2 linked regions of the Homo sapiens genome follow. The gene in region 1 interacts genetically with each later gene. Each region holds a gene or a part of one and is shown on either strand. Other genes may lie near its edges.

What was found. Genes that interact genetically often act in the same process or in processes that back each other up.
Region 2: of DUSP19 (region 1) and MAP3K5, changing one enhances a phenotype caused by changing the other (phenotypic enhancement), as found in Homo sapiens cells (one study listed by BioGRID).

The regions. Positions count from the first base shown.
Region 1 is NC_000002.12:183,095,747-183,101,986, reverse strand, and holds the end of DUSP19 (dual specificity protein phosphatase 19), read right to left. Parts: 3' UTR 1,979-6,240; downstream 1-1,978.
Region 2 is NC_000006.12:136,606,499-136,614,976, forward strand, and holds part of MAP3K5 (mitogen-activated protein kinase kinase kinase 5), read right to left. Parts: intron 7,789-8,478; coding exon 7,661-7,788; intron 6,759-7,660; coding exon 6,622-6,758; intron 4,890-6,621; coding exon 4,784-4,889; intron 1-4,783. UniProt on the Homo sapiens protein: Serine/threonine kinase which acts as an essential component of the MAP kinase signal transduction pathway. Plays an important role in the cascades of cellular responses evoked by changes in the environment.

The DNA.
Region 1 (6,240 bases):
GGTGAAGGGATATGAACAGACACCTCTCAAAAGAAGACATTTATGCGGCCAACAAACATGAAAAAAAAGCTTGTCATCACTGGTCTTTAGAGAAATGCAAATCAAAACCACGATGAGATACCATCTCACACCAGTTAGAATGGCAATCATTAAAAAGTCAGGAAACAACAGATGCTGCAGAGGATGTGGAGAAATAGGAACACATTTACACTGTTGGTGGGAGTATAAATTAGTTCCACCATTGTGGAAGACAGTGGGGCGATTCCTCAAGGATCTAGAACCAGAAATACCATTTGACCCAGCAGTCACATTACTGGGTATATACCCAAAGGATTATAAATCATTCTACTATAAAGACACATACACATGTATGTTTATTGCAGCACTATTTACAATAGCAGACTTGGAACCAACCCAAATGCCCATCAATGATAGACTGGATAAAGAAAATGTGGCATATATATACCATGGAATACTAGCAGCCATAAAAAAGAATGAGTTCATGTCCTTTGCAGGGACATGGATGAAGCTAGAAACCATCATTCTCAGCAAACTAACACAGAGACAGAAAACCAAACACCAAATGTTCTCACTCATAAGTAGGAGCTGAACACATGGACACAGGGAGGGGATTATCACACACTGGAGCCTGTCGAGGGGTGGGGGGTAAGGGGAGGGATAGCATTAGGAGAAATACCTAACGCATGCGGGGCTTAAAACCTAGATGACAGGTTGAAGGGTGCAGCAAACCACCATGGCACATGTGTACCTATGTAACAAACCCCCAAGTTCTGCACATGTATCCCAGAACTAAAAGTATAATAATAATCAAAAGGACACATTAAAAAAGAAAACTATTGGCCTACATCCCTGATGAACATTGATAAATACCCAAAAGAAAGGAAATTCATATATCAAAGAGATATCTGCACTCCCATGTTTATTGCGGCACTATTCACAATAGCCAAGATTTAGAAGCAACCTAAGTGTCCATCAACAGATGAATGGATAAATAACATGTAGTACATATATATAATGGAGTACTATTCAACCATAAAAAAGAATAAGATCCCGTCCTTTGGAAAAACATGGATAGAACTGGAGGACATTATGTTAAGTCAAATAAGACTGGCACAGATAGACAAACTTCAAATGTTCTCACTCCTTTGTGGGAGCCAAAAATTAAAACAGTTCAACACATGGAGATAGACAGTAGAATGATGGTTACCAGAAGCTGGAAAGAACAGTGGGGGCATGAGGGGAAGAAGTGTGATGGCTAATGGGTATTAAAATATAGCTAGATAGAATAAGATCTAGTATTTGATAGCACAACAGGGTGACTACAGTCAACAATAATTTATTGTACATTTTAAAATAACTATTACAAAGATATAACAGCCTGTTTGCATGAGCGTGGGAGGTGGGTGCCACACTATGTACAAATAATCTCAATGCAGTCATAGTTAGAATGTAGGGTAATTTAATCTGACAGTAACTCAGCATCTTCTCTTACCTTAAATAAGGTATTCTATTGAATTTTCATTGACAATCTGTCCACAGTGATGCCAATTATATGCTCTTACTTTAGCTTTTCTCTTTTGTGTTTTGAGACAGAGTCTCGCTCTGTCACCCAGGCTGGAGTGCAGTGGCGCAATCTCAGTTCACTGCAACCTCTGCCTCCCAGGTTCAAGCGATTCTCCTGCCTCAGCCTCCCAAGCAGCTGGGACTACAGGCGTGTGCCACCACGCCCAGCTAATTTTTTTTGTATTTTTAGTAGAGACAGGGTTTCACCGTATTGGCCAGGCTGCTCTTGAAGTCCTGACCTCGTGATCCTCTTGCCTCGGCCTCCCAAAATGCTGAGATTACAGGCCACCGCACCCAGCCGGCTTTTCATTTCTTGAAGAGACGGGAACAACAAATCTTCATAGATCTAAACTAACTTACATTTTAAAATATAAAATTGTGTGTCTTCCCAACATTTTTTTTTTTTTTTTGAGTCAGAGTCTCACTCTGTCAACTAGAAGTGCAGTGGTGCTATCTCGGCTCACTGCCACCTCCACCTCCCAGGGTCAAGCAATTCTCCTACCTCAGCCTCCTAAGAAGCTGGGATTACAGGCACCCACCACCATGCCCGGGTAATTTTTGTATTTTTAGTGATGGGGTTTTGCCATGTTGGCCAGGCTGGTCTTGAACTCCTGGCCTCAAGTGATCCATCTCCTTGGCCTCCCAAAATGTTGGGATTACAGGCATGAGCCACTGCGCCTGGCCACCAACAGATTTTTTAATTCAGAATTTGACAGCAAATAAGTGTTACATCTTTTAAAACAAATAGCTTCAAAGAAATATATTAATGGGAAAATATTAAACATATCATTTTTATTAAAGTATATCAACACCTAGAAACAATAAAGGGTACATGATGAATATGTATAAAAACAAGTAACTCAAAGCTTTACTTGAAATAGAAAAGTCTAACTATAAGTTATTTTTTGTGTGCATCAATTGAAACAAACCATAAGTTTGTTGATTATAATGTCATTTTATGCATTGCAAGAATATACAACTTCAAAGTCTTCTGGTTTAAATTCCTAAATAACTACAGGGTAACTAAATATGTTCAGGATCCTTCAGGCAGAAAAATCAACTATTTAGAGTCACCTGGAACAAATAAATAAGTAATCATGCCACATTTCTGTTGTTTTTAAATTTATCATGGTTTTGCTTATAAAGGTATTGACTCATTAGGTTAACTCTGTAAGATTATAAGATGATATTCTGATTTATACTTGCTACATTTATGACTACTTGGAGAAACAACACTTGAAGGGGACCTTCTATATACATTTGAACAATCTGAGTTACAAATAATCATGCTGACAAATTCAGGTTTCCCCACTACCACTGAAATTATCAGAGTCTAAGCTGAAAAAAAAAAATCCAAGTATTGTATTCATACATTTTAATCAAGGTTCAATAGGGAAGAAGGGAAGAAAAAGTAAAATTGCAAACAAAATGTTAAATACTGTACTCCACTTCCTCTGAAATATTTGTCTTTTGAATTAGTATACTGGTCTAAATTTTGCCTCCAAAAATCTAAGAAGAATATTGTTTGGGTTTTTCAAAAATCTACATACTTCTTGAGTGTTCTATTCAAATTTTATGTAATCAGAAACCTATTTTAAGGCATAAAATTAGAAAAAAATTTAAAAATTATTAACTTCAATTAACCTCAAATAAATAGAATTGTATTGTATGCTCCACTGCCTTTGTTCTACTCAGCTTTTTCAGTTTGCGGTTTAAAGCCTCCATATTTCTTTTCAATGTTTAAAAAGACATGCTGTTTTCATTTTCCCTTTCCTTTAAAAAATGGCAGAATAATCTATTGAAAAACAAAGAGGCAAAAACTCCTTGAACTATTTTTCCTCTCCTTTAAAACAGACCTATATTTGGTGTATGTATCTTTTAAGTTTGCAGTATGTGAGAAAGAGGACCGTAATCATAAAGTTCTTTTTTTAAAATAACTAGGAATGACAGAGTGATTTATCCCCATGGGAAGTGCAATAAACATATTGTATAGTATATATGACCTTATGCTTTACTTGGTGCCCCTAAAAGACTGAATTATATTCATTGATCTATTTTAATACAGCAAACTACAATTTAACGTTAAAACAAATTTGATGCTCAAAGCACTTCTGTAGAAGATACAAAAGATAAATGTTTGAATCTTACCCAGATCACTATAGGCAACAACTAAGCATATAAACTACAGACATAAATAATACACAATCCAGGCCAGGTGTAGTGGCTAACACCGTAATCCCAGCACTTTGGGAGACCAAGGCGTGTGGATCACTTGCGGTCAGGAGTTCGAGACCAGCCTGACCAACATGGTTGAACCCTGTCTCTACCAAAAAAAAATACAAAATTTGCTGGGCATGGTGGCACATGCCTATAATCCCAGCTACTTGGGAGGCTGATACAGGAGAATCGCTTGAAGCTGGGAGGCAGAGGTTGCAGTGAGCCAAGATCACGCCACTGCACTCCAGCCTGGGCAATAAGAGCAAAACTCTGTCTCAAATAATAATAATATCATTAAGAGCAAAACTCCATCTCAAAAATAATAATAATACATGAGCCATTATGAACAAATTCTATCAAGGCTTCATGTGACATTTAATGGCTGAAAACTAAACAGGATTTAGCAAAATAAAATGTATTTAAATACATCCTTTCTTATGAAAGGAGAAGGCTTATCCAGTGATACTGACCATAGAGAGAACCTATACATCAGTCTCATATTTAAGAGGGTTCTGCCTGCCTTGGTTGGCTTCAAAGAGCTCACTGTACGTTGATTATATTTAGACTGCTTCTTAGCAGAAGCAAAGAGTTTATAACAGTTCATAACATCACAAGTGATGGCATCTTGTCACGGTGTAAGCAATCTCAAAACATAACTTGCATTTATCACTTCTACTTTTTGCTCATGACAGCATATGAAAGCCTGCCTTCTCAAATGCACAGATGTGTTCAATATGCACTTTCCATCTATGCTTGCTCTTTATAATGTATATTTAAGAAGAGCTCAAGACTTTTAAAAATAAAACCTACATGGCAATGATATCTTCTAAGTCATGAAAAACTATGTGGAAACTATCAGGCCAGGCGTGGTGGCTGATGCCTGTAATCCTAGCACTTGGGAGGCTAAGGCGGGAGGATCACTTAAGCCTAGGAGTTTGAGATCAGCCTGGGCAACATGGCAAGACTCCTGTCTCTACAAAAATAAAAATAAAATTAGCCAGATGTGGTGGCGCACAGCTGTAGTCTCAGCTACTCAGGAGACTGAGGTGGGAGGACTGCTTGAGCCCAGGAGGTAGAGGCTGCAGTGCGTTGTGTTCATGCCACTCCACTCTAGCCTAGGTGACAGAGCAAGACCCTGTCTCGAAAAAAAAAAAAAAGAAAAGAAAAAAGAAACTGTCTTAATTAATTAATTTTAAGTATACCATATTCTGAAGAAAAAATCAAAATCTTTAAGCAAATTTATAATGTACAGAGCTCAGTTCTTCAAATACGGAGACATTAAAGAAAAAAGAACCTATTCAAAGGCCAAAGATAAAACTGTAAATGATTGTGGGTCTCCTAAAAGTATATTTAAAGTTTCTTACAAAACCATAACCCTTCTCCCCTAAAAAATATGTTCTCTGGTAGAATACTGAAGTAGAAAACAGACCACTAAACAATGATCTTGCAGTATCAAACATTTTCTCAAAAAATTATGACATAGGATCAAAAAAACAGAATGCTAGGCACCCAAGATAAAAAGCACAAAATGTAAGAGAATAGATCACCTGTTCAAAGAACCAAAGCTCACAATAACGTATGACAGAACACCTATACATTAAAAAAAAAAAGAAAGAAATGCCGATAACAGAATTGAAAAAAACAAAATGAGGTCGGATGCAGTGGCTCACGCCTGTAATCCCAGTATTTAGAGAGGCCAAGGTGGGTGGATCACCTGAGGTCAGGAGTTCGAGACTGCCTGGCCTATGTGGTGAGACTCCATCTCTACTAAAAACACAAAAATTAGCTGGGCATGGTGGCAGGCACCTATAATCCCAGCTATATGGGAGGCTGGGGCAGGAGAATCGCTTGAACCCGGGAGGCAGAGGTTGCAGTGAGCTGAGATTGCGCCATTGCACTCCAGCCTGGGTGACAAGAGCCAAACTCCATCTAAAAAAAGAAAAAAAAAGAAGAAGACAAAATGAAAAGTGTATATTTTTCATAAGAGAACATAAGAATTTTGTGAATATTGTAGCCACTGTGTAAATATTGTATAAACCTTCAGATACTGGTTATCTCTTTTGGGAGATTTAAGGTATTCATTTTTAATCTTAAAAAGATTCTTTAAAAAGAAATATACTTCCCTTTGAAATAGTAAGTTAAGTAGCATTTCAAGTTTTTCTTTCATAAAAACAGTTGCTGGAACAGAAAAATAGGCTTCATTAAATGATTCTCTCCATGCTCTAAATACACATTTTAAATTTAAACCTTTTTCTTCTACAGAAAGCAATGATTACTAACACTTTGTTATTTTCCCTTAGCAATTTAAAAAAGCATTTAATCACACATTATAATAACAAAGAGAAAGTAATGACATTTGAAATTTACTTATACAGTAGGTCAGGACAATCAAATTGACCTCCATTTATGCATAAAAAAGGCAAGAGAAAAAAGGGAGTT
Region 2 (8,478 bases), on another chromosome or scaffold:
CAGGTAAACACTTAAGTACAACTACCTCATTAACCTAAATGAGAGGCTGGATTTGAACTTCGAATACCCCATAAAGTGGTTTCCTAAAGTCTAGCAATGAGTCAGGAGCATGAATAGAAACATATCACCGCATACCCTGCTTCTGATATACAAATAATATAGTCAGCAAACAAGAACTCATCCAAGATGCCATGTTGAATTACTTCAAATTATGAGGTGTTTGCCAAAAGAACTGCTTCAGATTTTCTGATTCATAACCAAAGTGACAGACATTTTGATAAATACAGATGACACCTTTTAGGAATGCCTCATGCATGGTTTTAGGTGAAAACAATTGTGTAAAATTCCTGCAAACTGTTCCTCTGAAAAGCACTATCATAGGTGAGAAATGGACTATTGTTTACAAAAATAAAAGTGTATCATTTTTGTTATGTATTGCAGTCTTTCTAGGTTTATCCTGCAGACCTTATCACTGCATAGCAGTAGTTCACGCTAACATACAACTGCACATGTCTGCTCTCAGAAAGCCTTTCACCTGGCCAAAGACAAGGCAACCATGCTCCCCAAAGACGCTCGCCCACCTTTACTACAAAATTGGTATGATTTCTCTTCATTTGTAGCTTTTCCCCAAGTGATAATTTTGTATGATTTAAATAAGCTCAAATGGTCTTTTCGAAAATGCATCGAAGCCTACCACCCCCTTTTGTTGTCTCGGGGCCTAGAATAGAATTAATGAGAGAATTTAAGTTGTACTAATAGCTAAGTGGGAGTTATAGTGGATCAAAATTTGGAAATTTTTAATTTTTAAACATCGTAAATTAGACAATTCAAGTAATGTCAACAACAAATTATGCAATATTTGATTTGTCAGATAACCATCTGCCAATTGTGTTTAATTATCCCCCACTGAGCAAGTGCCAGAAAAACAGGTTGAGTCATGTGTTCTTATCTGCTCCTCTTTTTACTCCACAAATACATGACACATAATATTTTAAACAAAGCAATTTACGAAGCTGGATAATGAAGATGAGAGCCAACCTGAACACTGGCTTAAGTAAAATCAATGAGAGTATTTGCTCTAAAACTCATACCTCACATATCTGCATTCTAAAGTTTTTTTAAAAAATTGCTTTGAAATATCTATTGTAGAATTTCTTTGCTGCTGCAACTACCCAGGGAGGTGGTACAGCTTAGTGGTTAATTAAACTCTAATGTCACATTTCATTCATTCACTCATTCATTTAACAGATCCACACTGAGGACCTACTATGGGCCAGGCACTGTTCTAGGCACTTAGAATACAGCAGAGGAGAAAACATATAGAAATACCTGGGCTTATGTTTTTGCAGTAGAAGCCAGATGATAAATTATCAGCACAGTAAGTAAATTATACAGCATGTTAGAAAGTGACATGTTATGACCAAAAAAATATAGACCCGAGTGAAGAGGATCAGCAGGAAGGCTGCCATGGTAAATAGGGTGTTCATGGCTGGTCTCACTGCAGAGGTGGACATCTGCGTTGAGACTGGAAGAAGGTAAGAAAGTTACCCATGCAGACAGCTGGGGTAGCGGCAGGAGGAAAAGCCTGTGCAAAGGCCCTGTGATGGGACCCTGCCTGCTGTCATGGAGGAAATGCAGGAAGGTCCACGTTTCTGGCTCTGAGTAAATAACAGAAGAAGAGTAGGAAATGGGGTCTGAAAGGGAACAGACTCCGAATCAGGTCAGAGCCTTGTCCCCCACTATGAGGGTTCTGACATTTGTTTACTCTGAACAAAAAAAAAAAGCAAGCCACTGAGGGCTCTGAGCAATAGGACTTGGTTTATGTTTCAGAGGGATCACTCTGGCTGCAGTGCTGAGAGTAGACAGTAGGGGGCAAAAGTGAAGCAGGAGCACAGTTGGGGAAGCCACCGAAAATGCAGGTGAGCGATGAGAGTGGCAGCAGCAGAGGTGGTGAGAACCGGCCCAATGTTGGACATGTTTTGAAGGCTTCGTGGACGGACTGGGTTGGAGTGTGAGAAAAGAGAAGTGCCCTGGATAACAATGTCGGGAGTGGCTGCCAACTGGGACAGAAGAGTGTGCCGGGGACAGGTTTGGGAGAAGATAATTAATTCCCTTTGGCCTGTTAAGTCTTGCTTGAGTCTCAGCTCTATTACCAACTAGCTTTGTGACCTTGGGCAAGTTATTCAACCTCTTTGAACCTTCATTTTCTCACCACAAACTGGGATAATGATACCTAATGATTAAGGCTGATGTATGAATTTCAATAAAACAACATATGTAAAGCACTTAGTGCAGAGCAAGGTAACACAGTAAGCACTCCATAAATGGTGATCACTGCTGCCTTTTCCCTCATCAAAATCACCAAAAGGTGATGCAGACCAATTTATTGACTGAGCACCTGGGACTAACCCACCTGGGACTTAGTGACCACCAAGTTCACGTTTGAAGCCTATGATGTGCAGGGCCCTCGGGACCGGTGCTGGGGACAGATCTATACATGTTAGTGACACACGTCACTCTTACGTGACACCAGTGGAAGAGGTCCAAGAAAAGGGCTCTGTGAGGACTGCTTTCCTACAATTCCTTTGGAGATTTTACAAAAAAGATGTTCCCCAGATTAGTAGCAGAAGATACTGTGTTAACATCCTGTCCCACAAAGTGTGTGAAACGAGGGATTTTCCTCTCAGAAATTACTGAGTCTTGACAGCACTGAAACTGCTGCTTGCCAAGTTAAGAGTAAGAGGAAAGAAATGTAAAGACATTTGAAGTTATTAATAGGTCAGAATTTAGTTTTTTCAAAAAAATATATTCAAAATGTGTTTAATTCTGTACCCTAAAATATCCATTGCCCTGAGGTGGGAGCTGGGCCAGGGGTATTGCTGACTGAATGCTCTAGGGAAAAAACTTACACAGAATGTCTCTCTCTCCTCCTGCAGGAAGGTAGAGAGAAAGATGGACTAGAGCCAGAAGGTAAAAGCAAAGAGCAAACAGTAGATACAAAATCTGAGTTCTGGCTAGGCGTGGGGGTTCGCACATGTAATCCCAGCACTTTGGGAGTCCAAGGCAGGTGGATCACTTGAGGTCAGGAGTTTGAGACCAGCCTGGGCAACATGGTGAAACCCTGTCTCTACCAAAAATACAAAAAATTAGCCAGGCATGGAGGTGCGTGCCTATGGTCCCAGCTACTAGGGAGGCTGAGGTAGGAGAATCACTTGAGCCCGGGGTAGGGGAGGTCACAGTGAGCAGAGATTACACCACTGTACTTCAGCCTGGGTTACAGAGCGAGAACCCATCTCAAAAGAAAAAACAAAAACAAAAAAACAGTTTTGCCAGGCATGACATCCTAGATACTTAGGAGAGTGGGGTGGGTGGACTGCTTAAACCCAGGAGTTCAAGACCAGCCTGGGCAACATAGCAAGACCCAGTCTCAAAACAAAAACAAAAACAAAAAACCAGTCTGAGTTCTATCCGGTACACACTGCTGTGACTTCTGACTGCAATGTCACTTCTCTCCCAGGTAATTTCCTCATCTACAAAATGGAGGTACTCCCACCTACCTCACAGAATTGAGATGGGGCCATGTTGCTTCATATTAGACCAAAGATTATTCATGATCTTTTTCTCTTCCCTTCCCCTTACCCTTTTTTTTTTCCTGCTAAATTTCTCTCTATAAGAAGAACTTAACACTTCATGAGAATTAGCATGATGGAGTGATAAGAACTAAATGGAGATCAGGTTTGAAGTCTCACACACCCTCCCTATAACTGTTGGGCAGTCATGAATCTCTTGAGTCTGAGCTTCCTCTTGGCTACTGTTACCTTTTTGGAAATCACTTGGTCTCCACCCTCCCAGTACTTTGCACCAGAGGCAGCTCAGTGGTTGCGTTGCCTACTTTCTCAGGAAAGCTCTCTCCCTCCCTTCTTCTGAGTCGGTGAGTCACTTCCTCTTCTGAATTGAAATCCTAGGGTTATTTATATTGTGGAGTAGGGGAGTCAACCACAGAGAGTAAACAGTAAAAGAGGGAATTCATCGTCCAAATGGGAAGTGATTAGGGTATGAGTAAGCATCACAGAGAGGTTGGGCCAAGGAAATGTTTAATAAAAAAAAAAAAAAAAAAATCTTGCTAGAGTTATTGTAGGCCAACCAGGAAAGAAGTAATTACATGAAAAGAAAAATAAGTAACAAGTTGAGAATTAAAAAAAAAAAAAAATCTTCAGTGGCATTAAGCAGGAGACTAACTAAGCAAGTCATATAAATACAGGAAGAGAAAAGGGCCAAATCAAATTCTGTAACACATTTTTCAGTGAGCATCAAAAGATACCAACATTGGCCAGGCGCAGTGGCTCACGCCTGTAATCCCAACACTTTTGGAGGCCACAGGTATATCGCTTGAGCCCAGGAGTTTGAGACCAGCCTGGGCAACATGGTGAAACCTTGTCTCCATCAAAAATACAAAAAAATTAGCTGGGCGTGGTGGCGCATGCCTGTAGTCCCAGCTACTCAGGAGGCTGAGGTGGGAGGATTGCTTGAGCCTGGGAGTTTGAGGCTGCAGTGATAGGTGATCACACCACTGCATTCCAGCCTAGGTGACAGGGCAAGACCCTGTCTCAAAAAAAAAAAAAAAAAAAAAAAAAAAGAAAGAAAAGAAAAGAAAAGAAAGAAAAAAGATACCAACATTACTGTGTGTGAGAACACCAACTGAATTTCTCTCTCACATTGTGCTCAAACTCAGCAATTATTTCTTTAATTACATAAGATCTGTATCATCATTGCAAAAACATACCAGTAAAAGTTTCAGTACAGGGGTTTATGCCAGCAAGCCTCTTTGATGTTCCGAAGTCAGAGATCTTGAGAACACCACTGTAGGTATTAATCAACACATTGTCACCCTAGAGAACAGAGGACTTTAATCACAATTGTTATCTTTCTTCAGATACTGTCTGTTGTTGACTTGGTAAGTCCAATTTAAAAAAAAAAAAGGTGTCCTTACAGCTACCAACGACATTAATTCTGTATTCTTCATTAATAGTTTATCTCAATAGTGCATTCTTGACACTATTTTTTGTTTACATATTATCAGTTTGAAACCAACCGCCTTTGCGAAAATTACAACAGTGAGAAAATTATGACAGTAAAAGAGATCTGATCTAACCACCACCATCTTGCTTTAAATTTCCAAACTGCCCTTGGTCATTCCAGGGTGTAGACCAAGCTCACTTGGAGAAATTTAATTTATAGTTTAGTTGATAATAGCCCTTCCCCAAAACTAAACTATCTTTGTAAAACTAATGAAAGGCCACCAGGTTAGGAGGATGAGAGGGGCCTAAAGTCCGCTAAGATGTAGGCACAGTCAAATGATTATCAGCCCATTATTCTGGGGGTCACAAGATTTGCAACTTCCCCAATTGTTCCTATAATTGACATCACTATTGTAGAACTGAAGACTGGCCTTTTGAGATGTCTTTACAGGCTTCTCCATTTCTGACTATCAGATGGCATCACCCAGACCTGTGACTCTGGACTCAACCAGTCCTGTGGCCCCTACCCAGAAGTGGACTCAACACACAAGAACCATTTTCCACACCCCTATAATTACATCCCCAACCACCCAGACCCTAGCCCCCTGCTCACCAAACTATCTTTGAAAAACCCTAGCCTCTAAATTTTTGGAGAAGCTGATTTGAATAATTATAAGATCCAATATTTTGTTTGGCCATCTCTATGTGTATTAAACTCTTTCTCAATTGCAATTCTTACATCTTGAGAAATCAGCTCTATCTGGTCAGTGGGCAACATGAACTCATTGGATGGTTATAAGTTCTTCATAATCTGCTACTCAGATCACAAGATCAAATATGATTCCTAATTGGTTAGAGCTTGTTGCTATTTACAGATATATAATGATGTATGTATAATTAAATTACGATTTTCATAACTTTCCAGTTACCTTACTTTCTTTTCTATGTTTCTTTACTTCTTTTCCTGGAATATGTAGGGACATGATAGATAAATGGGCTTTTTGGTTGATTTTAGGGTACTAATATTAACTTATTTTCAACAGTCCAGACTTTGTAAAAAATGTATTAGTTCTGAATTTTCTTTTTAAAAAGAGAATGTAAAGTTATTATTTTAGCTTATTTTAGAGAATCTATACCTTATAATTATAGTTAAATCAATGAATATGTGATACTTGTGAGAAAAGAGGAATTTTTTTTCTTCTAACCATTCATCCATTGATTCAATAAGTATTTACTGAGTAGCTACTATGGGCAAGGATACAAAGATTAACCAGCCTATAAGCTCCTCAGGACCAGGGGCCATCTCCTGTTTAACTTTTGACAGCTGCATCCCACACCACAGAGCTCCTAGGAAACATTGTGTGGTGGGAGCACAATCTTGTTGGCTGAACGCAGTTAAGCAGTGTGTTCCTTGAGCAGAAGCGTTAAGACATGAACATAAATAACTGATTCAGGGTTGAACGATATTTTATATTTCTGCTGTTTCTAAGATTTACTTATTCACCATTCTAAATTAATACTCATAACACAATATGACTTTTGCAAGTAAAATAATAACCCAGCAAAGAAAGAACTCATGAAAATGAATGCTGGTGTACCTCACCTTTATGTCCCGGTGAACTATCTGATTGTCATGGAGATATTTTAATCCTTCCAGTATTTGCTTTGTATAAAAGCCAATTGTTTGCTCATTGTCTTTTAATGGACCCCATTTGGAACGAAGGAGAGCAGAAAGACTTCCTGTAAAGTAGGGATAAATAGTAAATAAATCCTCATTCAAATGAGCTCTTTAAAGTGTATTAATAATGTAACAGTAATTTAAGCTAACAGTCATTGGTTCTTCACAGTGGCCCAGGAGCTATACTGGATATCGGGCTCAAACATGAATTTGCAAATATCCCTACTCTAAAGATGCTTGTAATCAAATATGTCTAAGTAAAAGGCCAATGTCAATTGCCAACTTTAATTCAAGTCATGATGATAGATACTGAAATGGTTCCCATATTTATGTATTGTCTCTGTGAAATTACATAATTCACATGTAAAGCTTCTAGAACTTTAAATTATTTGAGCCTTATTATTTAAGGAATGTGACTTTGTGGCCTGAGTCATATAGCATTCAGTTGTAACTTCTGATTCTGCGATTATAGGCTAAATCTCTTCCGCATTTTTGTCCTGTAAATGATTGGAGAAGACTGAATGGTGCCAAAGAAAAGATCCCCCGAGACCATTACCCCTCCTTATGGAACATTAAAATAATGTGCCTTGGAATACAGCAAGCTGTAACCACTTAAATGTAATGACTTTGGGTAGAAGATGTTGCCACCCTGTTAGTCTTCAGCTTATATAAGTGAAACATGAACTTCCTCACTTTGGAACACTGGCCCATTCTTTTGGAGTCTGTGTTTCCTGGGTGGCTATCCTCAAGCTTTGCACTGGAATAAACTCTATACATTAGGATATTTTCTAAATCTCATCATTTATGGTTGACATCTCCTAACAAACTGGAGGTAATGTCACATGTCCAATTTTTCTTTCAGTTTAGACAGATTAAGACCTGTACGCTAGTAAATCCCATTCAATTTTACTCCCCTCCGAAGCTCTAAACATTCACACTTTTTAAAGAAAGAAATATCTCTTACCTCCAGGGACCTGCTCCATGAAGATTTTAATGAAACCATTCTCACTGAAAGAGCCCAGATACTGGACAATATTTTTGTGCTTCAGGTGTTTATGCAATGCTATTTCTTCATGCAGGGGCTGAGAGTATCTAAAAGACATGCAATTGTCAATGAGTTAATTATGTAGCCAGACTTTACTGTATAAATTTAAACAATACAAATGGAAAATGTCAGCCAAATATATGTCCATATGTAAAACCAAAACAACCACTTAAGGCCTTTATTTCTCCTAAGGTAAATTCTATGAGGTTGAAGGTGTGGTAGGATCTGAGGGGAAATGTGTCAGGTACTAAGCCAGTTGTATACATTAATTCATTTCCATGAGAAGGTAGTATTGGTATGCCCATTTTACAGATGAGGAAACTGATTCACAGAGAGGATGACTGACTTGCTCAAGATCCCAAAGCTATTAAGTGACAGAGCTAAGATTCAAACCCAGGAGAACGGAAATTGTCCACAGTTTACTCTCCATATTAACATATTAACATGACTTTCTATTCCACTGGCCTCATCAACACAACTTTATTATTGACTATAAAACTTTACTATTACAATTTACTATTAATCAGGAGACTCTTGCCCAGGAAGACAAAACTTGCATAATGTACATTCCAGAACTTCCTGAAAGGCCCGTCAATTTTTCAATAGCAAACATAAAACCACTCATATGTCAAATCTCTTTGAGCCCCTTGCGTCAAAATCTTCACCTTACTGTATCCACTAATTCTATTATATCATGATTTTTACCTAATCCTCATGAAGCCTCCACATTGAAAGTG